7 linked regions of the Homo sapiens genome follow. The protein of the gene in region 4 interacts with the protein of the main gene of each other region in a pairwise test. Each region holds a gene or a part of one and is shown on either strand. Other genes may lie near its edges.

The links.
Region 1: the proteins of RSPH1 (region 4) and SEZ6L interact in a two-hybrid assay, tested with the Homo sapiens proteins (one large-scale study listed by BioGRID and IntAct).
Region 2: the proteins of RSPH1 (region 4) and DNER interact in a two-hybrid assay, tested with the Homo sapiens proteins (one large-scale study listed by BioGRID and IntAct).
Region 3: the proteins of RSPH1 (region 4) and WDR17 interact in a two-hybrid assay, tested with the Homo sapiens proteins (one large-scale study listed by BioGRID and IntAct).
Region 5: the proteins of RSPH1 (region 4) and LGI3 interact in a two-hybrid assay, tested with the Homo sapiens proteins (one large-scale study listed by BioGRID and IntAct).
Region 6: the proteins of RSPH1 (region 4) and ZNF251 interact in a two-hybrid assay, tested with the Homo sapiens proteins (one large-scale study listed by BioGRID and IntAct).
Region 7: the proteins of RSPH1 (region 4) and KDM4A interact in a two-hybrid assay, tested with the Homo sapiens proteins (one large-scale study listed by BioGRID and IntAct).

What each region holds. Positions count from the first base shown.
Region 1 is NC_000022.11:26,175,962-26,179,461, forward strand, and holds part of SEZ6L (seizure 6-like protein isoform 1 precursor), read left to right. Parts: intron 1-3,500. UniProt on the Homo sapiens protein: May contribute to specialized endoplasmic reticulum functions in neurons.
Region 2 is NC_000002.12:229,585,556-229,589,055, reverse strand, and holds part of DNER (delta and Notch-like epidermal growth factor-related receptor precursor), read left to right. Parts: intron 1-567; coding exon 568-662; intron 663-3,031; coding exon 3,032-3,198; intron 3,199-3,500. UniProt on the Homo sapiens protein: Activator of the NOTCH1 pathway. May mediate neuron-glia interaction during astrocytogenesis.
Region 3 is NC_000004.12:176,173,841-176,177,340, reverse strand, and holds part of WDR17 (WD repeat-containing protein 17), read right to left. Parts: intron 2,725-3,500; coding exon 2,623-2,724; intron 284-2,622; coding exon 185-283; intron 1-184.
Region 4 is NC_000021.9:42,482,725-42,486,224, forward strand, and holds part of RSPH1 (radial spoke head 1 homolog), read right to left. Parts: intron 3,081-3,500; coding exon 2,945-3,080; intron 1-2,944.
Region 5 is NC_000008.11:22,154,007-22,158,061, forward strand, and holds the start of LGI3 (leucine-rich repeat LGI family member 3 precursor), read right to left. Parts: upstream 2,801-4,055; 5' UTR 2,537-2,800; coding exon 2,331-2,536; intron 1,458-2,330; coding exon 1,386-1,457; intron 626-1,385; coding exon 554-625; intron 208-553; coding exon 136-207; intron 34-135; coding exon 1-33.
Region 6 is NC_000008.11:144,749,032-144,752,531, reverse strand, and holds part of ZNF251 (zinc finger protein 251), read left to right. Parts: intron 1-403; coding exon of another isoform or gene 404-522; exon of another isoform or gene 523-621; intron 622-2,541; exon of another isoform or gene 2,542-2,628; intron 2,629-3,500. UniProt on the Homo sapiens protein: May be involved in transcriptional regulation.
Region 7 is NC_000001.11:43,653,149-43,656,648, forward strand, and holds part of KDM4A (lysine-specific demethylase 4A), read left to right. Parts: 5' UTR 1-27; coding exon 28-165; intron 166-2,442; coding exon 2,443-2,618; intron 2,619-3,500. UniProt on the Homo sapiens protein: Histone demethylase that specifically demethylates 'Lys-9' and 'Lys-36' residues of histone H3, thereby playing a central role in histone code. Does not demethylate histone H3 'Lys-4', H3 'Lys-27' nor H4 'Lys-20'.

The sequences.
Region 1 (3,500 bases), on a different chromosome or scaffold from region 4:
GAAGGCTGAAGACCTCAAACACCCCCATGTGTTTCTTCCTGGGCTGGTTATAGCCAGCATTATAGCAAATATAACACTGCTGTTTGCCATTGATTGTGGACCTACTCTGTGCCAGGGGGCTGTCTTTGTGCTTTTCCTGTATTCACGTATTTGATCCTCATGTGTTCCTATCAGGTGGTATGATAAACTAGATTTTACAGATAAGGCAACTGGGTCAGAACGGTACAAGCACTTGCTCAGGGTCTCATGGACAATGAGCGGTGGAGTCAGGATTCAACCCCAGAACTTTTGATTCCAAAGCCCACGCTTGTTCTAAATACTGGGGCATGAAGATGTGGGTATCACATAGCACAGAGCAAAATGGAAATGGAGAGCTGATGCAAGCCTGGAGATCAAGGTGGTTTGACAGGACTCCAAGAGGAGAGATGCTTTCTCATCCAGTGGCAAATGCCAGGTGTCCCAAGTCAGCTTTCTGAGACAGAAAACAGTTTATCCCAGCCTCTTTCATACCTACTTTGATGGCTTGTGCGTGAGCCTTATTCTCATCTTACTCATGCTATTCCTGCAGCCTGGACTGTCATCCTAGAGGAGCGCATGGCTGGTTGTGTAGAGAGGACTAAATCAAGTTCCCAACTGGCTGATTTTAACAGTATGATCTTGAGCTATTTACTTTAGTTCTCTAGGCCTGTTTTGGCCTGATATATAAAATGAGAGGATTAGATTTACATTACAAGATTGTTAAGACTCGTCAATATATGTGCATATTCATAGCTCATTGCAAGCACTCAATAAAAATTTGCCATTATTGCTCTACTATTAACCTGGTAAACTTCTATTCATCCTTCAGAACCCAGTCCTAATTCTCCTTTTCTGTGAAGTCTTCTCTTGCTTCTCTCCTGTCTATGCCAATTATGAATGATCCTCTTGACCCCTTATCACATTTTATCCCTCTACTATGGGTAATTCATACACTGATAATGCCTGAGTTGCCAATTTACATAACTCCCTCCCCCTAAACAATGAACTCTTAGAAAACCTCAACTGAATCTTACTCATTCATATGCCCCTTAGCCTGTATCTAATCAGGTATAAATTCTCAACCCATTATGTTAAATGACTTTTCCTCTTAATCTTAGTTTTGGGGAGGTGAAGTTAGAGTCCTGACATCTGAATTTAATTCCTGACTCTCCTATCCTGTGTGGTCTTAGGCAGCCTGTATAAACCTTGATTTTTTATCTGAAAAATGGGAATAATAATAGTGTCCAACCTCATAGGATTGCTGTAGAGGAAAACCAATGAGATAATAGATGTGGAATCACTAAGTAACTCTACAAAAAAGGAGGAAGAGAAAGAAAAATTAAAAAGTGGGAGGAGAGAAATACACTTTGTAAAGAGAAAAGAAAAAACCTTTGTGCAAACACAAAACCACAAGATAGGCCATTCATCGGGTCCTCACTAAAGCCATCTTTCTTTCCAAAGGAAATATTGGATGCAATTGTTTGCCCTGTGCCTAAGCTCATTTCAAAGCAGAAACCTTCTGGACATCCTACTGCTTATTGTTGAATCTGCCTTCTCTTAGGTCTCTGGCAGCTGCAAAAACAGCAAATGCCCAGCTGAAAACTGGGACAGTATAGCAAAGTGAATAAAAACCCAGGCTCTAGAGTCAGAGCAGCCTGGGTTTCAGTCTGTTGCTTCTTATTAGATGTGTATCCTTAGTCAAGCCACTTTGTCACCTTGAGCTGGCACCGGGCCTTGCATAGGAGTGAGGGTCTATGATCTGCCCACTTCTCAGGGATAATATGATATGGGAGAGAGGTTGTATAGTTAGAGTAGGCCTCCTTGGTGTCTGTAATATTAATCAGATTCTAGCAGTTATTTGGGATTCTTATCTGCCTCAATCCTCTCCCTGATATTTTCATTTTATTGAGGAAAGAGACCCAGAGACAAGAAAGGGCTTACTCAAAGTCCCAACTGTGAGTGGCAGAGCCAGGACTTGAACCCCTCACTCATGTCTTCTGACTCCCATGCTAAAGTGACTTCCACCTACTTTCAAGAAAAATGGAATCCCTATCCCTCTCAAGTTTATGTCCTGAGACCCAAGGAGTGTGGCAATGGAAGTTTTAAGGGTATCTGTTTTCAGTAAACCACTGGCGTCTATTACCCACATGGGACATTTACATTATGTGGCCATGGAAGACTGACTGCATGAAAGAGGCTTTGGTAGAAGTGGAAATCAAGCCATAGCTCCCTCCTCTGCTGACTTGGCACTTGAATCTTCAAGGCACCAGCAGATAAGCTTGCACCGGGGAATGGTGCCATCCAAGCATCTGGCTTGAGTCAAGCAAGCAAGAGTTAAATGAAGAGGCTCAAGGAGACCCAAGGCCCAGGCTAGGTATCCCTCCTAGGCTTCCTCACTCTCACCATGGGTCATGGATAGTGGCTGATTGAGAAACCCACTGGGGATCTGGGATGTGGAGAGCAGGGAAGGATTGAGTGAGGCATAGCTAATGTAGTTGGTGCCAGCCCGGAGCAAGTAGTAGGGACTGGTGATGTTTTGGGGCTGGAGATTAGAACAAGGTAGGTGGATACAGTATAGCACCTGGGGTCTGGAGCTCAGGACAAGTCTTAGTGGGTATAAGCCTCTGGGTGTCAGTTTCCTTGTCTGGTCTCACCTATTCCCAGTTTAGCTTAGTGTCATAAATTGGTGAGTTCACATTGCCAAAATGGAATGGGCTCTTCAAAGCCGTACACCATAATAAAAAAGACACAGACCCTGGAGTCCAAGAGATATGGGTTCAAACCTAATGCTGTGATCTTGAACAAGTCACTTAACTCTGAGATGATGGGAGTGGGTGGTAGTGATGAGGATGAAGAGGGGAATTATGAGTTGCTGTTGTTACTGATGGACCGAGCTGATTCTCAGGTCAGCGATGGCTTCCAAGAGAGGAAATAGTATATTCTAATGTGATTTTTGTGGTATAGTGCTATGGTTGGAATATTTATGTCCCCTCCCCCGACACCAATGTATAGGTTGAAATCCAACCCCTCTGCTGATGGTATTAGCAGTGGGGCTTTGGGGAATTGATTAGGTCATGAAAGTAGAGGTCCCATGAATGCAATAGGTGCTCTTAAAAAAAGAGGCTTGAGGCCAGGTGTGGAGACTCGTGCCTGTAATCCCAGCAGTTGGGAGGCTGAGGCAGGAGGATCACTTGAGGCCAGGAGCTCTAGACCAGCCTGGGCAACATGGCAAAACCCCATCTGTACAAAAAATTCTAAAAATTAGCCAGGTGTGGTGGCATATGCCTGTAGTCCCAGCTACTCAAGAGGCTGAGATGGGGGGATCCACTGCAGCCCAGGAGTCCAAGGCTGCAGTGAGCTATGACTGCACCACTGCACTCTAGCCTGAGTGACAGAGCAAGACCTTGTATTTAAAAAACAACAAATGGAGAGACACACCTTACCCCTTTCACCATGAGAGGTAGAAATGTTGAAACAAGAAG
Region 2 (3,500 bases), on a different chromosome or scaffold from region 4:
TTGGGAAATAATTTAAAAGCGAAGGTATAGCCTACAAGGAAAAAGAAAGGCAGCGTTCAAGCTCCCCAGCCTTAGCATGTGCTCCTGGACCCATCAGCACACAGAAGAGTCATCAGACCTGATACTGCATGCACTTTGCAAGTCGAAGGCTGGCTTGCCTAGTCATTAGGCTTTTACCTGCTGTTTGTAAGTTAGTCCTTAAAGTTGGCCTCCTGGTTAGCATCAGGTTAAGCATAGTGCAGGGGTCAATGACTGCTTGTTAAATGAATGGAAAATGAGCAGGGAGTGACATCTGCTTCCTGTCCTGCAATATCCTATTGATCAGTTTTAACAATCCCAGGAATTTGTAGATTGCTCTCAGGGAAGCTGTTGCATTTCAGAACATCAAATGACAAAGATTTCATTTTCTTTTGAGTTTGTAAGGCTTCACTTCTTCATCTCCTCTCTAGCCCTACCCCCGCATCATCAAAAGGGATGAAGGAAATTCAGCATGGAATTTTGCTTTATCACATTATGTTATACTATAAACAACCCCAATCATATGTCGTTTTTTTTTTCCCTTCCCAGGTGATCCCAGATATTGCCTGTGGGAATGCCAGTTCTAACAGCTCTGCGGGTGGCCGCCTGGTATCCTTTGAAGTGCCACAGAACACCTCAGTCAAGTAAGAAAATTCTGAGTTACAAACTGTTAAGAGTGATGCTATGACCTATAAGTGGGGTTGTGTCCATCCGCGGACCTGGTGTGTAAGTGGCCTGTCAAGTGAGAATCGTGAACAGATTCCACGGGTAGATGTGGCCCCTGCCATTTGAAAACTAGAGGAAGCGATTTCAGAGGCAATTACAGTGAGGGTTTTCAGGCTGGACAAGTGGAATTGAGAAATTGGACTGGATGAGTCTGGTGTGAGGTGACAAACCGTGAGGCCTTAGATAAGATCTCAGCCAGATTCCTTGTCTCCCAAATGCTTTGCTTCCCAAATTATTGGCCTCTTAAGATTTTATTGGACCATCAGTTACATTCAGATGCATACTTTGCCCCAAATTTAAATTCTACATATTACAATTTTCTCTTTATTTTTTATAATTTTTATTTATTTATTTATTTTTACAGTTTTCTCTTTAAAAGCAAGCGTACAAAGAGAGTGTTTTGTTTAAAATTCAAGCTATTTTAAATGACAGGGTCCATTGTCACCGGTGGGGAAGAGGGAGAGGCATAGGGAAGCAGTGCTGGTTGAGACCTGATATGTGTGGTGCTTTATATGAGGCTCAAGTCAGCAGGTGCCCAGGAGCACAAAGCTGGGGGTGGGGTATGGGCCAGTATTAGGGTGCCCCAGGCCGGCTGACAACCCCCCACTGCCCATCCTTTTCAGTTGCCATTGACTACCACCCTCCCCACACTTTCCATGCAACCTAAGGGGCATTTGCTGTCCAGTCTTTGGGGATTTTTAGAAGACTGGGAACACGTGGCCTGGTTAACCAATCTGTTGCACTGGCTCCCTTTTAAGGGGCCTGCGGGCACTGTAGGTCTCTTCCATGTATCCATCGCCATTTTTGTCTACCTGGCTTTCTAAACAGTGGAGTCCCTGAACATGTTTGGAAGAGGGACTTTGTTACATTGCTCTTGCACCCTGGGTCACCACAGCCTTGAACTCACTCTGGCAGGGGAAGAGCCTGGAAGGGCTGCTTGGGAATTCCTGGGCTCAGGAGGAACGCTCCCATCCGGAGAGGCGGGAGAGGTGAAGCCTGAGGCAGCTTCGAGCTCTACCAGCAGGGGGACCCCGGTCCTAAGCGTTTCTTTCACTGCTCAGACTACAGCTGAAACCCCTGCCGTCCTGGGCTAGTTTTAGGAGCAGGATCTCTAGTTTCCTTTACTCTTAAAACATCTCTCGGCCCTTTCTTGTCTAGATCATATTATCTTACCTTGATAAACCTTTCCAAATTTTCTGGTCTTCTATCTCGTTAAATGCTTTTGTTTTTTTCCTCTCAACAAACCTGCCATTCTCTGAGACTCCCTTAAGCTGCAGAACGGGACCGAATTAGCAGAGTCTGACTCAGACGAAGTGAGATGGGAGTGCCGAATGACCTGAGGGCACTGAATTCACTTGTGGGGGTTACTAGCTCCTTACGCTTTCATTTCCTCATGAATTTAGTCACTGATCAAAGCTTTACTGAGCCCCTGCTGCACGCCAGGAGCCCTGTGCTGGGGGAGCGGATCTGTGCGGAGTCTACTGTGATCTTCTCCAGGAGCACTGGGGAGAATGGGCAGCTGTTGGGATGTTGGGAAGTGGTCAGGAGTCTCTGGGAAGAGGTAATATGTGGGCTAGGAACACATTTCCAAGGTGGAGAAGGAGACAAAGCTTGGGAGGTGAGAAAGAACTGGGTTGGGGTAGCTCGTAGTAGCTGAAGCATTGGGCTGTGAGGAGAAAAGCGCAGGAGGGCAGCTGGGGTTGGGGTTGGGGTTGATGGGCTTTCTGTGACATCCTATTCTCTGTGGGGTGGTTTTGTGTGTTTTTTTTTTTTTTTTTTTTTTTTTTTTTTTTTTTTTTTTTTACCAAAAATGAGCCAGGGGAGGCCTGAAGCATTGGGAGGTGGATTGTATGTGATTGTGTGTGTGTGTGGGTGGGTGGGTGGGGGGTGTTGGGGAAAGGTGACACACTTTTGCTTATTTTGGCAGCATAACTCAGGTGGCTGTGTTGGGTTGCAGTCCACGTTTATGACAAATTTAAGCAAAACTCTTTTTATATTGTGTGGCTATGGAAGGATTTGTCTGAAAGAGAACTCAGTGTACTCTTTTACTGTTCATCAAAGTGGTTACTCAAAGGTGAGTTACCAGTGACTCATTTTGTGGTACACTGTGAACAAGTGGGAGTGTACGCCTTTACAGTGGACGCCCGCGTATCTGTTTATGCCATCGATCTCCTGGTACCTTGGTAGATGCACATACCATCTTTGTATTTATTTTTAATTTGAAGAACTGGTTCTAAGATGAATTTTTCTGAAAGGAGCTTTCTGTTTACATCATTCCTGTTTCCAGGATTCGGCAAGATGCCACTGCCTCACTGATTTTGCTCTGGAAGGTCACGGCCACAGGATTCCAACAGTGCTCCCTCATAGATGGACGAAGTGTGACCCCCCTTCAGGCTTCAGGGGGACTGGTCCTCCTGGAGGAGATGCTCGCCTTGGGGAATAATCACTTTATTGGTGAGTTACCAAAATCTTCTACTCAACACTGCATCTGATTCAACCCAACTTTGGTTTGGTGTTGAGACAGTAGGTAGGGAATTTTGCTCAGATAATCTGAATTCTATCCATCAATGCTATTTCTTTCACTTTGGTAAGGTTTTAGAATAAAAACTGGATTCTAACATAATATTTCTTTTTTTCTTTTTTTTTTTTTTGATGATGGAGTCTCGCTCAGTCACCCAGGCTGGAGTGCACTGGCGCGATCTTGGCTCACTGCAACCTCTGCCTCCTGAGTTCAAGCGATTCTCCTGCCTTAGCCT
Region 3 (3,500 bases), on a different chromosome or scaffold from region 4:
TTATAGTAAAACAAAGGACTACATGGCAGAAAAGTACGGTATTGTAAATTATTACTGCATATATGCCAAACAAATCAAGATTCATTATTCTGCTAAAATTAATGAGACCACACATACTTCCAACAAGTTTGTCTATAACATCAAATACCTTCTGCATTCCAATTTTTATATCATATTTGCTCACCTGTTGGTGGACTGTGTGCAAGCTCTCCATGCATCCAATTCCTCAGAAAGATATTCAATTTTTAAAGGTACTGACACCTCCCGACGTTTTAATAGCTGACTGAACGTGTGAAAAGGAAATTAACATCTGATACCAAAAACTAAGATATCAGAAAAAGCAAACAAACTTTAAATGTGATTTTAGATTTATATATTTCTGTATACAGACATTATACGTTATATATAATATACATATAGAATATTTTCTAGTATATGCGTATATATGCTCACCTGTATATTTAGCACAGTCCCTGGCAAGTCAAAGTTATTCAATAAACATTGGGTGGATGAGTAAATGAGTGAGTGGATAAATAAATGAACTGCATAATGTATGAAGAATGGTTGGACAAGTTAAGTGATGTTAAATAATAGCCACAGTGAGAGAGAACACTTAACCATGACCCTGATCATTTAATCTTGAATGACAGAAAGAGAACACGGGAGAAGGAGATTTGAGAAGAAAGATGATTTGAATTCTGAGCATACTGACTTTAGGCTGGAGTTTAGCAAGCTGCTGAATATACACATAGGAGTTTGAAGAGTACGCTATGCCTGAATATAAGACACTGAGTTACCTCCATAGAGGTGATAGGTGAAGCTGAAAAGTGGTGAGGTTTCTGAAGGACACCGTATAGAAAGGAGACGGGAGGGAGTGGAGCCGTGGGAGGAGAGTGGGATGGAGAGGAGGAAAAAGGGAAGCAGAGGACGAGAGAATGAAACTTTGGGGACTCACATATTTAGTGGGTCAAGAAAATAATTATAAGCAGCAAGACAACAAAGATGGAACTGTCAGAGACGATACATTCTTTAATATTAGGAAATTATCAATTTCTCTTTCTAAGCTAACACATTCCCTAAACTTAGTCACATTCTCTCAAGTCTCTCCTGCCCTTGCAAATAAAAACCGTTCTTTTTCTTTTTGATATTAATTTAATGCTTAATTAAGAATTTTTCTCTTTACTTTTATCATTATATATAGCTGAACATATTAAACATTATTTTACATCTATGTGATATATCCTACTGCTCCTATAATATCTTTTAATACTGTTAAATGTTGCTTTCCAATTTTGGTTATGCTACCTATGTAGAAAGAGATTTTTCCCTGAGCATGCTGATAGTATTAATTCCATATTATTCCTTATTTGTACTAGGTGACAGCTAGTGCTTCACCTACGCAATAGGGAGAAGTTAGGAATGAGAAAACCTGTTTCTCTTAGAATCCTCTGCCACATATGAACTCAGAAAAACTGCTTAACCGGCCGGGCATGGTGGCTCACGCCTGTAATCCCAGCACTTTGGGAGGCCGAGGCAGGCAGATCACGAGGTCAGGAGATCGAGACCATCCTGGCTAACATGGTGAAACCCCGTCTCTACTAGAAAAATACAAAAAATTAGCCGGGCGTGGTGGCGGGCACCTGTAGTCCCAGCTACTCGGGAGGCTGAGGCAGGAGAATGGTGTGAACTTGGGAGGCGGAGGTTGCAGTGGGCTGAGATTGTGCCACTGCACTCCAGCCTGGGAGACAGAGAGAGACTCCATCTCAAAAACAAACAAACAAACAAACAAACAAACAAACAAATAAAAGACTGCTTAACCACGGACCCTCTGCATTTGTTAAAATGGTTACCTACTAAGCCATTTAGCTAACTACTAGACTTGGAAGAAGGTTTTTATGGAAGGCACCGTGAATTTTATTTTATAGTATAAGAAGTTTTAAGTACAAGGGCTGAAGTTAAACAAGTTGTTATAAAATGTAGGAGTATGGCTAACAGGTTATGCCTGAATATAAAATATTAAAATAGTAACCTGCTACTTACAAACTCCCTTTACTCTGCCTTTTCTGCTGTAGAGATTGAAAAGCTAAAATATTCAGTTTCCTATTTTCTTTTAGTGAGATGTGGGCATAAAACCCTAAGGAGGACTTTCCTTCCTGAATAAAATGGTCTTGCCAGGAGAAAGTCCTTTGTGGTCTCTTTCACTCTTACCTCTTTCCTACTCAGAATGTAGTCGTAATTCATGGAGGGCTAGCATCTATCTTCTAACCATGGGATACTCAAGCAAGAGGAAATAATCCAAAAAATGTCATAGTGGAAAGAAGGGAGTATCAGGTCCTTGAAGAAATCACTGCACGGCAGTAAAAGCCTTAGAAAGCCTGTCTCAAGTGTCTTGACATGAAAGATCAATAAATCCTAGGAGTTTAAGCTAGTATTCAAATTATTATTATTTACAGCCCAATGCATCCCTAATTTATGTGCTGCTTTATTATAAAGCACACGCTGAGTAAATAGATGGATACTTGTAATAATATATTTGATACTTTGTATAATCCACTTAGAGACTATCCATCTTAGCAAGAGAAATTGCTCTAATGTCATGATGGAGGAAAAAACCTTTTTTACCTTGTGTACTCATAAAGTGCTGGAACAATGCTTTGGTACTGTCTTCTGATAGCCAGTAATGCACCAATGTAACCACATAATATCAGCAACTCATTTCGAGCTCTAAAAGAGAATATATTTATTTTTATAAATTCCACAATTTGAGGCATAGAACATTACTCTGATACACAGTTCATGTACTTTATATATTCTGAAAGGTGACATTTATAGCAATATATGTTTAGAAAATTTTCTAAACTTAAGGAAAATTATTCACCAGTTCTTAATTCCTATTCAGATATTTATGCTATACCATCAATTAGACTATAAAATAAGCATATTTAAATAGTATTTCACTGTTGCCTGCTTGTTGTTCTGTATTTCCTGGCTGTTTCTTCATGTAATTTATCCCTAAATAGCTCCTTTGGTCAGGTGGAGGGAGTCCTGGAATACCGTGTAGACTCACAGTAAAGAACGTCTTCTGCATTCTTGCTGAGGGAGTTAGCCAGTCTCCCAGGCTGCTGCATCATTTTTTCCATTTAGGCTTTAAAACAAAAAGAGCCCAAAGCCTCTCTTGTAAATTATACAAGAGTCTCTGAGGGCTTTAGTTATATAGATAATAATGTCTTTTAATAGTACCTGAATCCAGGGATGATGTCTATTTTGTACTTTCCAGCAATTTTACTTCTTTCCCACAAGCTCAGTATGGTGCTTTGCATACAATGGATAATTAACAAATATGACCATGAGTTTCTTAAGGACTTGAGATCCAAAAGCTTTGAACTTGCTTTCTTTAAACCAGGTGTGCATGTGTGTGTACATATATAAACATACACATACTAGATATTATTAAGTGGGACCACTAATATTTAATACTCTGTTTCAAGTTGACCTCTACA
Region 4 (3,500 bases):
ACCATTCTTAAGTGTCAACACCCAGCAGAAAATACAAAATACAAATGTCACCACCACAATACCCACCTCAAATCACCAAATTGGGTAAAGTGTAACATGGATTAAGGAATGCTTTTGTGAACTCGTGGCTGATGGGATTGGAACTTATATGCCCTGTTTTGTTTACTTTTGGAAACTTTAACCACATTTTACTTTTTTATAAAAGTGATGTATTCATTTTCAGAAAACCTCAGTGAATCAGTATCCATAGGCAAACTAGCTACCGATGGAACTACTACTAATATTTTGATGCATTCTTTGTAACTTTGCTTCTAGTATACATGGTTAAATAAAAATCTGATCATAATTATACATACTAACTCATACTCTATTTTTACTGAGAAATATGGCATGAACTACTTCCCGTATTTACAAATATTCTTTCCTAATAACAGTTGCCACCTGGTACTTTATTTCATCTATGGATTGCAACCTATTTTACTCAGTTACTATTGTTGGTATTTGGGATACTGATTTTTTTTTTTTTTTTACAAAGAACGCTCCAGCAAACGTACTCTGAGTTAAAACTTTATGTACGCTTTTGATACCATCCTTAAATTCTCAGAATTTCTGGACAAAAGCATACATGTGCTTTGATTAGATGAGGCTCTAATCGTTTCATTCCCATAACTGCACTTAAGAGTCCCAGATCCTCAAACTCTTGATTTTAGGAGTGTAAAAATGGTCTATTTTTACATGTTTTTTTATATAAAACAACAGGGTCTCACAATTTTAATTCACTTCATTTCAGTTGTTAGTAAGCCTGCATTTTTTTCAAGATTTTTAGCCATTTAAATCACATTGATTGATAAAACACTTTATATATTAAATGTTGCAAATATTCTCTCCCCATTTAACAGTCATCTCTTAGATTTTCTTTACAGCATTTTCTAATCTATAAGAAGTTATTTTTATAAAGCTAAACCTATTGGTTTTTCCTTTCTATTTCTGTTTAGAAAGTTCTCTTTCCTCATTTCAAGGTTAATATTCATCTACATTTTTTTTCTATATTTCCTAGGGTACATTTAAATCTTTACTTCTTCTAGAAAGTATCTTCATCTGTGTGAAGGCAAAACTATTATTTTCCTCCCAAATAATTGTCAAGTGTTCCTAGCACTATGTCTTGACTCCTCCCATCATCCCTTTGTTAATTTGACACGCTTATTGTGTGTGAAATTATTTTATATACTGGGAACTGTCTCTGGACTTCCTAATTTGCTTCATTGGTGTGTGTGTGTGTGTGTATCCTGGTATCACACTGTTTTAATTATTGAAGTTTTGTGGTATTGATAACTTGTCCACAAGGACATGTACAGGGAATTTTCTGAGGAAGAAACACAAACCAGCAATAAACATGTGACAAGATGTTTGACCTCACTAGTAATCAGGGAAGTACACATTAAAACAATGAGATGACATTTTTTACCCATAAGATTGGAAAAGAACAAAAACAACATTAAAGACTGAGAATATCCAACATCGATGAGAATATATGATAAACAGACTCATATTCTATTGGCAAGAGTATAAACTGACACCACTTTTTAGGAAAATGGGCACTACCGATTGTGATTCTAAATGCCAATCCTCAAAGGTTTCACAATTCCATTATCTAACCTACACAATAGTCCCAAATGTGCAAAATGACAAATATGTATCTTTATGTATATTTTTGTATCCTGACACAGTATGATCCTAATTATGTAATTAAAACCCCCAAACAATAATTCTGTGTCAGATGACTGTATTAGAATGTGCTTACATGACACACAGAAATAGTGTGGAAGGATTGGGCCCAGGGTGGTGGGGCAGGATCCTAGTGTTTAAATGCTTTACAATTGGAATGTACTTGTGTATTATTTGTATAATTTAAAGTTTTTTACTAACTAGCAAAACAAAGCCTCCATTTTTACCCCGATTTTTCAGACTGGTTTAGGCTGGACAAGCTGATTGATTCTTCCAGATTCATTTTCATCAAATTCTCTTCCTCTGCAACCACCTTCCCATCTCCTCCAAAAAGACCCACAGAAAGTTTGCTGGGAATTATATAAACAATGTATGGGTTTGAGGGGAATGTGCTGTTTTGATGAAGACTAAAAGTAAAATCTGTGGTTAGGGCATGAATTATACGTAAATGAAAACTGGGTTCTAAGAGAGTCTGAAGAGACTTCGTTGTATCAGCTAAACATTCCCTCTGTCAACTTCTAACACCATCAATTTGCTCCGCAAATTCTCTCTTCAGGGAAAGTTTCTGCTCAACCCCTGATCAAAGCTACCACGATGGCCTGAGTATTAGCTTCTGAATTATTCAAGGTTTCTCTGTACAATAAGGGCAAGAGGAACCACCGAGTCTTCCAAACAGAAACGGCCCACCATGGGTGCTAGAAGCTGGCAAGCCTCCAGACGCAGGGCCAGGCCCTTGGCAGCCTTAATTCCCACCACAACTAGGAGCACGCAGGCTGGCCTGTAGCATGAGGAGGGAGCTGGGGGTCTTCCTCCCCAGGGATGTCGCACCTCCCCTTCCAGGGAAACAAAACCCAAACACCTCTATGCTCAATTGCAGGAAATAGATATTTGGTATCTGATTTACCCATGAGAAGGAATACACACAAGAGGTTCAGATGCCCTCTCGTGTTATATAACAATGCAACAGGTCCCCGCTGAAAGACAGTGGGAATTTGTACTGAGATCCAGAGAAACGGGCCAATCCCTCCCTTCCCCCAATTCTGTGCTCTGTGGGTACCAGAGGCTCAGAGAATGGCACAGCTGTCCTGTTCTCCACATTTGAATAGGCCGGACTCAGTTTTCTCTGAGTTTTTGGTATTCTCTGGTCACACATTTGCACAGGCTGCCAGAGGGGGTTATTTTGTACTTCATTGGCAAATGTCACTTCCCATGGACTTACATTTTTGTTCAAGAACTTGCCCTGGTACCTGTGGTTCAGGTGAATGAGCTCGGCCGTGCCCTCCTGCTGTCCGTTCACCCAGGTGCCAACATACTTACTGCCCGTCTCCGCGTATAAATAGGTGCCTTGCCCATGCCTGGTTAAGACAAGGGGAACATGGTATTTCGTTCCAGCACAGTGAAAAATCTCCCAGGTTTAAAACACAGACATTGACATTGAGGGAGGCCCAGGCTGTTGCAGGCTCACAAGCGATGTAGCTTCTATATCTGTGTCCAGTCAGAAGGTGCCCCTTGCTCAGTGTGCCCCAAGCACAGGACATTGCCAGAGGCACAGAGGACAGGCCAGCTGGACAGAGGCAAGCCTCCTGTGTGTCAGCTGCTTTCCCCAGGGAAGAGGCAGAGCTAGTGGGAGCTGTGGCTCAGGTCCCCCAGTGGCTCTTCTGTGCCCTCCACTCCCTGGGACTCTTGGGTGAAAGACTCACGTGCTCTGCCCCAACTGAGGTGCAGATGTCAGATACTTGAGTCTACACTTGCACAGAAAGGCATCCTTGCCTCAA
Region 5 (4,055 bases), on a different chromosome or scaffold from region 4:
GGCAGTGTCTGCAGGTTATTGTTGGCCAGCGAGCTGCAAAAGAGACCGCCAGGTCATCTGAAGATCATGAGCAAGGCCAAAGGCCACAGGAGAGGTGGGGCTTTGGTGCAGTGTGTGTATGTGTGACGTACTCACAGGTGAGTCAAGGACTTGAGTCCTCGGAAGGTGAACTTGGATAGTGCCCAGATGTCATTGTTCTCAATGAAGCTGGGGAAAGCGGGAACTTGCCTCAGTGCTCACACAGGATGCCAGACCCCCAGCAGCACTCGCCCTACGCCCCAGCCTAGATTTCAGCCCGTGTCCCCGAGACAGGTTTCCAAATGGAGTCTGGCATCACCAAGCCATAGAGATAGAGCATCAGGTAGGGTAGAGGCAAAATGAATGAAACGACCTTCTGCTCAGGTCCTGCCATCACGGGATGCAAGGGCTCTCGCCTCCCATCACCTTCCCTTCCTGCGGCATTCTCATCCACTCCCTACCCAGTCCCTCGGCCTCCCAGGCCTGGGGTCCCCCTCCCTTCTGCTTTCCCATTGCCCCTTTCCCTCCCACACACAGATACTGCAGGTGCGACAGTCCTGTGAAGGCGTTGTCTCCAATCAGTGTAAACTTGTTGGAGTTGAGTAACCTGCAGAGACAAAGGTGGAATTAGAGCTTCCAAGGGTGTGCCTGCTGCCCCAGCCCCCAGCCCGCTGCCTCAGCCCTGGGCTTCCCCAAGACATGACTGCCCTGCTGCTACCCCTGGGGACCCCATGGGGAATCCCTGGGCCACCTGGGCAACAAGGCCAGGCAGGAGCCTGTTCTGGCCCCAGAAGCTCCCAGGGTCCCTGTTGGATCCTAAACATGGGCCAAGGCAGAGCTCTCTTGTCAAGCCAGCTCCTGGTCCTCCCGGGTGGCATCTCCTCTCCCTCTCCCCCACCCTCATTCTGTCCCATTCCAGCCCCTCATGGACAACTGTCCCTCATGGACGGCATCTTGTAGGGTTGGAGACACTCCTGCCATCCCTTTCTTTCAGCCCCCAGCTCTTTCTGGGAACTCTGATTCCTGGGATCACCTGTCTCTAAGATGGCCCCACAGTGCCCACCTTGGGCACTAGCCCAGGCTATCGCACCCAATTCTCTGGGGTTTCCAGAGCAGCCAAGCCCATCCCCGCATCCCACTTGCTTGGCTTCTCTGTGCCATCCCTAGCTGTCCTCCTGCTGCCCCGACTCCCCTGACTCAAGGCTGCCCCGTCTTTTGGGTACATCCTATCAGAACAAAAGCAAGGGACACCTGCATCTTCGTCTGCAGAGGCTGCCTCTGTCCACTCTCCCTCTCCCCAGCCCAGGATTTGTCCCCTGCTACCACCCCATAGTTCCCCCAACCCTTCCACAAGGCCCTATCCATACAAGAACTGCAGCAGCGGGAGGTGGGAGAACGCTCCATCCTGGATCTCTGAGAAGGCGGCATTCACCAGGGTCCTGCGGGGACACCCGAGTCAGTACTGTGGGGTCTGCAAGGGCTGTGCTGAGGCAGGGAGAGGTGAACACGGAGGGCAGTAGCTTTTGTACTCACTTGCCCTGGAAATGCCCCATTTCACCTAATTTAGCCCCCATCTGTGTGTCTTTCCCTTCTCCTCCCAAATTCACTGCCTGCCTTCACCAGGGTCCTCCCCTATTGCCTCTTGGGGCACCCATGGCCCCAGGCTCAGCTTCCCTCTCAGGCAAGAAAAGGTTCCATCACCCACACCGTTGTCATCATCATCCAAACACCCACAATGGGCTGGGTGCTGTTGAGAGATGGGGCATGGGGGTGGGGGCTGGCATCCTGGTCCCCAAGGACCTCACAACCTCTCTGGTCCCACAGACAAGGGGGAGCCCCTGAGGCTGGCTGTTGTGAGTGACAGGCTGGCCGAGCTGAGTGCCAAGTGGCTGGTCAGTGGCGGGCATGTGCCCCATGCCAGGGTGCTGGGAGGGCATAGCTCATTCTCATCCTGCTCTGGCCGCCACTCTCCTGCCCTTGGTGTGACATCACAGGCAGGGGCCCACATGCTCGTGTAAGCAACCCCCCCAAGTCTGGAGCACAGCACACAGTAGGTCTCACTGTCGCTCGTGGTGATGATGATTCATTCTTGGTGGTGAACTCCTGCTTTCCCCACCCATGGCCGCTGAGCCTGCAAAACTGCAGAACTCCCTGCCCGACTGGTGCCTGGAATCTCCAGCCCTGAGGACCCCTGCAGTCCCCCTGGTCCCCGCACTCTGAAGAGGGGGAGCGGGGGTTCTCCTGTCCTCTCCCAGAGCTGTCCTCGGCCTCCTCTCCCTCCCCAACCCCCAAGGCCAGGGCTGGACACTCACAGGGAGATGACCTCCGAGGGCAGGTTCCTGGGCACCGCCTTTGAGTCCACGCAGAAGGCGGTGTCCCTGGTGCAAGAGCAGCTGGGCGGGCAGGGGGGCGTCTTGGGGGGCCTCTTAGCGCTGACTTGCAGCATGAGGCAGAAGCCGAGCGCGGAGAGCGCCAGCAGCCCCGGCCCCGGGCCCCCCCTGGCCCGCAGCCCCGCCATGCTGCCCGCGATCTCTCCCTGGGGCCGGCGGCCGCGGCCCCCGCCCCACCGCTCCCGCGGCTGGGCCACCCCGCGCGGGCTGGCACCTCCCTGCCACCGGCAGCTGCTACCGCAGCCAGGGGCCCGCCTGCGGACTCCTCCTGCCCTCGGGCGCCGGCTGCGGTCCCCTCCCCTGCTCGCTCCCGCGATCCGGCTCGGGAGAGAAGAGCGGAGCGCGGAGCTGGAGCCGCAGCCGGGGCTGACCGCGCCGGGTGGCTGCGGACTGCGGCGCGGGCGGCGGGGGCGCGCGCGGGGCGGCGCGGGGCCTGGGAGTCACGGAAGGGGAGGCGTGGCCGCTGTGTGCTCTACCGGGCGGTCTCTGGGGCCATCCGCGTGTGGGGCTGCGCGTGAGTGCATGCGTGTGAGCTTGTGCTTGTGCCTCTGCTGGGCACGACTGTGCGCGCCGGTGCTCACCTGTCTCTGCACGGGCACATGCACTCACTGCCTTGTGGAGGCGCTTCGGCGTTAGGGATCCCTGTGCTTCTGTCTACCTGGGTTTCTTTGCATGGGGGGACACATCCCCTAGGCAGCATCATGGGCATGTCGTGAGTGACAGACGCATATCTAAGTTAGCATGCAAGATTAGAAGCACAAGGGCGTCCTGGAGGAGTCTGAAGTGCGCTTCTAACCGGATTCACATGTTTTTCCACGCGCCGCTGAACAGAATGTACCTTTGTGTCAGCATGAGCTGAAAAGGGAAACGCAGCCTCTGGAGCTGGAGTGGGACTGTGTGGAATTCTGGAACATTTCTCACGCTCAACCACAGCCTGTTAAAGCTGGGAAGCGCTTTGGATATTTTTCAGTCCAGCCCTTTGTCTAACAAATGAGGAAACTGAGGCCCCCTAAGCTTGCTATCGCAAGTGCTCTGTACTTTCCCTACTTAATCCTCTCAATCGTTTGAGGCAGGTGATAGTAATTCCCTTTTACAGACAAGAAAAGTGAGGCCTGTCGCACCAGAAGAAAAAGGTATCAGCAGGGATTTCCGCCCACTCTGCCCAGCTTCAAGGTTCACGGTCGTCCTTCCATGCACGGCTCTTCCAAGTGTAGCCCTGGGAGCCCGGGGGTCCTTGAGAACCTTTCAGGAAGTCTCTGAGGTAAAAACAATTTTCCTAATATTGTTAAGACATGATTTGCCCTTTTCACTTCTATGAAGCTCCAAATTTAAAAGATTTCCAAAACTGTAAAGAAATGACACTTTCTCTCTAATTTTATTTTGCTTTGTAAAATAATTTTGCTTTGTAAAATCGTTTTTCCATTAAAAATGTGATTTATGTCATAACCTATATTGGGTTTATTACTGATATTTTAAATTCACATGTAAATAAAAATGTAATTTCTCAGTAAATATCAACAGACATATCCCACATAAACAAAAGCTCTTGGGGGTCCTCAATACTTTTTGAGAGTGTTAAGGGGTCCTGAAAACAAAAAGCTTGAAGACTGCTGCTCTCTACCACGTTAGCTCCCCTGTGGCGGAGGA
Region 6 (3,500 bases), on a different chromosome or scaffold from region 4:
TGCATCTCACAAAATTTTAATATGTTGTATTTTCATTAACATTTAGTTCAAAATGTTATCTAGTTTTTCTTGTGACTTCTTCTTTGACCCAATGATTATTTGGACATGCATTAATTTCCAGATAGTTGGTGTTTTCCTAGTTATCTTATTGTTATTGTCATTTAATTCCACTGTGGTCAGAGAACATACTCTGTATTATTTCATTCCTTTCATATTTGTTGCTTCTTGTTTTATGACCCCAAATGTGGTCTCTCCCAGTACAAATACCACGTGCACTGAAAAAGAATGTGTATTCTGCCATTTGGGGGTTAGATAAATATCAGTTAAGTCAAGGTGGTTGATGGTATTGTTCAGGTCTTCTGTATCCTTGCTGATTTTTTTTTTTTTTTTTTTTTTGGTCTAGTTATTCTTTCAGTTGCTGAGAGAGGGGTGTTAAAATACAGAAGTATGATTGTGGAATTGTCTTTTCTTCACTTTAATTTTTGTAGTGTTGGCTTCATGTATCTTGAAGCTGTATTATAAGACTTACTTCACTTATGACTATCATTATGAGAGATAAGAGAATTCCTGTTTGTCTCTGGTAATACATTTTGTTTTGAAATATATTTTATCTAATATTAATGTAGCAATTCCATCCTTCTTATACTTACTGTTAGCATAGTATATCTTCTTTCATCCATTTAATTTCAACCTGTCTTTACACTTAAAGTGAATCTCTTGCAGATATCATACAATTGGGTCTTGTTTCTTCATCCTAACAATCTTTGTCTTTTAATTGTAGTGTTTAGTCTGTTAATGTTTAATGTAATTGTTTATATGGTTCAGGAATGCACTTGTGCATAATATTTTATTTTTTACTTACATTTACCTCTTCTGTTTTTTAAATTCCTCTTTCCGGCCTTTATTTGGGTTATTTGAATACTTTTTATAACTCCATTTAAATTTTATTATTTGCTTTTTACATAATCTTTTTGCATTATTTTTTACAGTGATTTTCCTAAGGTTTACAGTATACATAAGTTTCCACAGTTTACTTACAGTTCATTTGTGTACTACTTCACATAAATCCAGAAATCTTGTAACCATCCCTCCCATCCTTTTTGTTATAGTTGTTATGTGTAATACATCTACATAACATTTTAAACTCAGAAAGACAATGTGATAATTTCAGTTTTAAACAGTTATATAGTTTATAAAAAAGGAAAAGGAAAAAGGCCAAATAAATAGTATTTTAGCTGTTTCTGACATGTAAGGACTTTAGAAGTCATCACTGTGTCCTAACAAGTAAAAAGCTGAACAAACTGAAAAATCAACAAATCTTAGCTCCATCAGAGAGGTGTGAGGTCAGAGGACAAATCACTGCTCTCAAAATTGGAGAGGTATGGCCGGGTGCGGTGGCTCACACCTGTAATCCCAGCACTTTGGGAGGCCGAGGCAGGTGGATCAGTTGAGGCCAGGAGTTCAAGACCAGCCTGGCCAACATGGTGAAACCCTGTCTCTATTAAAAACACAAAATTAGCTGGGCGTGGTGGTGGGTTCCTGTAATCCCAGCTACTCGGGAGGCTGAGGCAGGAGAATCGCTGAAACTCAGGAGGTAAAGGTTGCAGTGAGCCAAGATTGCACTACTGCACTCCAGCCTGAGTGACAGAGCGAGACTCTAAAAAAAAAAAAAGAAAAAAAAAAAACTCTGGAGAGATAAACAGGCAGATACAAAGAATCACAACCACATCTTGTGAGCAATAATCTCCCAGGGAACCGGTGGCCAGATGGGTAAGCCTAAAATGTAACTGGCAAATTGCTAGAGGCTCAGTGTGGACAACTCTGAAAAAAAACTCCAGGGGGACCCGGTCATGGGAGGACCCCATACTTTTGTGAGCTTTACCTCCAGGAGCTCTATTAGGTACTGACAGTGAATATCAGAGAAAAATCTCCTTGTGCTTCTGGCAGGAGGAAGTGAAAAGGGACCACTTTGGAATATACCATTCTGTTCTTAACAAGACCTGCCCTCAGGAGAAACAATTTTACCAGGGCCTAACCTGCTGGTGTTTTTATCAGAACTTAACCTTCCTGGGGGAAGGGAAATACCTAACACTAGCTACTTCTGGATATTCTGTCCCACCTAATGGCAGGTGGGGGAAGCTGAAAAGCACTTGGGAAGTTCATAGTCCAGGGACACAAGCTCAGCAAGACTGAGCCCTGCTCATAGTATCATAGAACACTTTCCCACCCCAACACCTGAAAACAGGATGAAAGCCCTGTTTACTGCAATTCCTTTTACCCAGTGTATCATGTCTACCTATCAACAGAAAATTACAAAGCATACTTAAAAGGCAGAAAATGCAGTTTGAAGAGACTGAACAAGCATTAGAACCAGAGTCAGTCGTGGCAGGAGTGTTGGAGTAATCAGACCAGGTATTTTTTTAAAACTATGATTAACGTGCTGAGGGCTTTAAGGGAAAAAGTAGACAGTATGCAAAAACAGATTGATAATGTAAGCAAAAGAGATTAAAATTTTAAGAAGCTGGATGTGGTGGCACATACCTGTATTTGCAACTCCTCATAGTGTAGCAGGATTGCTTGAGCCCAGGAGTTCAAGGCCAGCCTAGGCAGCATAGCGAGATCATCTTTCTTAAAAAAAAAAAAAAAAGAAAAAAAAGAAAAGAAAAAGAAATTTTAAGAATTTTTTAAATACTAGAGACCAAAAACACCATAACCGAAAGGAACAGTGCCTTTGACAGGCTCGTTAGTGGATGGTACACGGCCTCCAAGAGATTGTTATTTGAAAGTGGACTTGTATTAGCTGTAAATGCAGATTGCAAACCAATTTAAAAAGTTAAAAAAGAAGTATAGTTGATATGCTAAAAAAGGATACAAAATGGAATTACATATAATAGAATGCTCAGGTAAACCCACAAAAGGTAGAAGAGTATGGAAAACAGAAATAGGAATGAAGAACAAGGGCAAAAAGTAGAAAATGGTAACAAATGTGGTAGATGTTAATTCAGCAACATCAGTAATCACCTTTTTAAATTTTTTTTTTATTTTTTTGAGACAGTCTCACTCTGTCCCCCAGGGTGGAGTGCAGTGGCACAGTCCCAGTCTATTGAAAGCTTTGACCTCCCAGGCTCGAGTGATCCTCCCACCACAGCCTCCCAAGTAGCTGGGACTACAGGCATGTACTACCACACCTGGCTGATTTTTGTGTTTTGTACAGACAGGGTTTCACCATATTGTCCAGGCTGGTCTTGACCTCCTGGTCTCAAGACATCCACCCACCTTGGCCTCCCAAAGTGCTGGGATTACAGGAATGAGCCACTGTACCCAGCCAATAATCCCCTTTTTAAAAAGTTATTTATTTATATTTTTAGAGATGGGGTCTCACTCTATTGCTCAGACTAGAGTGCAGTAGCTTGATCATGACTCATGGCAGCCTTGACCCCCTGGGCTCAAGCGATCCTCCCACATCAGCATCCCGGGCAGCTGGGACTACAGGTGCATGT
Region 7 (3,500 bases), on a different chromosome or scaffold from region 4:
CTAAAGGGACCTCAAAAAGGAGGGAAAATGGCTTCTGAGTCTGAAACTCTGAATCCCAGTGCTAGGATAATGACCTTTTATCCAACTATGGAAGAGTTCCGAAACTTCAGTAGATACATTGCCTACATTGAATCCCAAGGAGCTCATCGGGCAGGGCTAGCCAAGGTAAGGAGCTGGGATTGTTCAAATGGTTTTGTTACCTAGGGCAGAGCAGTAAGATTTTTTTCCTACATTTGGGCCGGAACTGTGTTTTACTGAAAGTTGGGTGGGGTGATGACTTTAGTGAATGCGGTTCTATTTGCAAGTTAATTCCCGTTGTTAACATCAGAAGCATCTCTGCTTTTAGGTAGGAAGAGAGCTACTTGGAATCTTCAGAAAGGGGGAGGTAAAGAGCTAGTGTCTCCAGGCCTGGCTGCTGTTGTGCCTCAGCCCTCTTGGTGGAGCTGGGTGCTGTGGTGTTATTGAACTGCCAGTGAGTGCTTATGCCATCTGACTTCTCTTGCTCTCATTTCAGTCTCATCCAGCACTCTAGTAGCAATTTGGCTTCCCATGTGGACTTTCTTCAAGGGGAGAGAATGCACTGGCCAGCCAACATGAGTATTCTGGTCCTTGTAATTTGAAATTGGTTTCTGGTTTGTACTTCTTTCTCCTGTGAGTTGGATTCGTTATTTTTCCTGAGTCAAATCAGCTTTTCATATATTCTGTCACAATCAGGTTGAGTGCTGGAAGCTGAAAGAACTGCATTTCTGGAGAGATCCTCAGGAAACTGAGAGGCAGGGACCTCAGTCTAAGCCAGGAGGAAATTTTTTACACCATTTTATGTTGTTTGAATTCCCTACCATATGTGCTTGTTACATTTTCAATATGAAAAGAGAAAGCAAGAACATTGGCTACAAAGCTGAGGACCAGTCTTGGACCCTGGTGCCTCCAGAGACTTGAGACGACCACATCCTCTTTCTTATCTGCAGATACGGCTACTGCTGGGTTAATAACAGCAGGCGGGAATAGCAGGGCCTGCAGTGCAGTTTTTCATAGCACATTGCTTTTTTTGGTTGTACTTTATTAGATTTAAAGTTACCAAAAAAATGTCGGTTATTACAAGTTAAATATTTCAAACGCAGATAAAGAAAAGGCTGATCTTCATCCACCTTCTCCAGTGCCGTCTCCTTAAGTGGTATTAGCTCCCTCCACACCTTTTTCTCTGCTCATACAAACATACACACATATAAAATAGTGTTATTTGTTTTGTTTTTAAAAGAGAATGGCATCATGCCATATACATTCCTGTGTTGGTTCGTTCATTCTTTTTTCTTTTTTTTTTTCTTTTTTCCTTTTTAACAACATATATTCCTCCCTCTAGGTCAATTATGGATTCAACTCATTCTTCTTTTTTCTCATGTCGACTGTCTTGTTAATTTATTACTATTGGAATGGGTAATTTGATTATGTGAGTAAAAACAGAATGCTATTGGAAGGTAGCTAATGTAGAGTCTTGCTCCCTTTCCGTATTTTCTTATATGTCCTTTCAGTGTTGCCTTATGCAGATGCTTGTGAGTGTGTGTGTGTGTGTGTGTGTGTGTGTGTGTGTGTGTTGTTTTCTCCCTTGTTACATAAAGTAAAACAATACTCTCTAATTAAAAAAAAAAAAGCTGTATAGTATTCCATAAAGCAGATCTATCTTACTTAACTATTCAAGATTAGATTTTTTTTGTTTTTTTTTGAGATGGAGTTTCGCTCTTGTTACCCCAGCTGGAGTGCAATGGCGCAATCTTGGCTCACTGCAACCTCTGCCTCCGGGTTCAAGCGATTCTCCTGCATCAGCCCCCCAAATAGCCGGGATTATAGTTGAGTGCCACCACACCAGGCTAATTTTTGTGTTTTTAGTAGAGATGGGGTTTCACCATGTTGGCCAAGCTGATCTCAAACTCTGACCTCAGGTGATCCACCTGCCTCGGCCTCCCAAAGTGCTGGGATTACCGGCATGAGCCACTGTGCCCGGCCTCAAGATTAGATTTTTAAGAATGTTATGCTTCTTTGTAATTAAACTGTAATCTAGTGTGTGAAAAAAGGAAATTCTGTACAAGTATAGAGTTGACCAAATCAAGTAAAGTTGTGTTTGTGATTTTTTTAAAGAGAGCCCTGGGCTAGGAGATTGAGAGAGAATCAAGTCTTTAATCTCCTTTCTTGGTGTCCAAATAAGATACTGAAGCTGGGAACAAGTATTACTTACCTTAGGTTGCTGCAATTAGGCAGCTGGTTGGTGGCAAAAGTGGATCAGGGTTAGCATGCCTGTGACTTACTGTGTTTTGGTGAATGTGGGTAAATCAAAGTAACTGTCTAGTAAAATTGACTGTTAGGTTGGCTGGTAACTACATGCTTCCTGGACTCTGACTGGCTTGCCAGGTTTCTCATCTGTCTTTTTGTTTCTTGTGTTCCCTTCAGGTTGTTCCTCCAAAAGAGTGGAAGCCACGAGCATCCTATGATGACATTGATGATTTGGTCATTCCTGCCCCCATTCAACAGCTGGTGACGGGGCAGTCTGGCCTCTTTACTCAGTACAACATACAGAAGAAAGCCATGACTGTTCGAGAGTTCCGCAAGATAGCCAATAGCGATAAGTGAGTGGAAACCCTTTCTTACCTGACATAGCACCTAGGACCCTGGTGTCTCATCCTCCTAGCATCTCCAGGACTGCTGCTGTCCTGATGAACAGTGTCTTCAGCAGGATGGCTCTGTTCTAGCTGTCTCCCTTTCTGCTTTTTTTATGGAAGCATTCCCTCCTCTCAGGACTGTGTCCCAGTCTAAACCTGTTCCTGTTCTTATAACAACAAATCCCATTGTTTTTCCATCAGAAGTAGAATCATTTTCTGACTCTAAAGTTGCAAGGAGAAAGTTGGATGTGGTGCACAAGGAGCTTTTGCTGGGTATTATCAACCACCTGCTCATCAAAAGTGCTTTAGTTCCACTTCCTCTCTCTCGGGATGCTCTGTGTTTAATTGTGCTGGAATTTCTCACTGCCCATCCAGCCTGCTAGCTCATTTCTGTTTTGACATTAACAGTGTGAGTAAACCACCAAGCTGGTTGCTATTTTCTGTCACTCCTTCTTTCTCTGTACATTCCTGTCTCTTTTAGAGATATCTTTCTTTGTGTAGGCCTGTTTTCAGTTCTTCTCTGCTGTTGGTTTTTTTTTTTTTTTTTTTTTTTTTTGAGATGGTGTCTCACTTTATTGCCCAGGCTGGAGTGCAGTGGAGTGATCTTGGCTCACTGCAACCTCTGTCTCCCAGGTTCACGTGATTCTCCTGCCTCAGCCTCCCAAGTAGCTGGGACTACAGGCACGCGCCACCATGCTTGGCTATTTTTTGTATTTTCAGTAGAGACAGGGTTTCGCCACATTGGCCAGGCTGGTCTTGAACTCCTGACCTCAAGTGATCCTCCTGCCTTGGCCTCCCAAAGTGCTGGGATTACAGGCAAGAGCCACCACTCCTGGCCCTTCTCCGCTG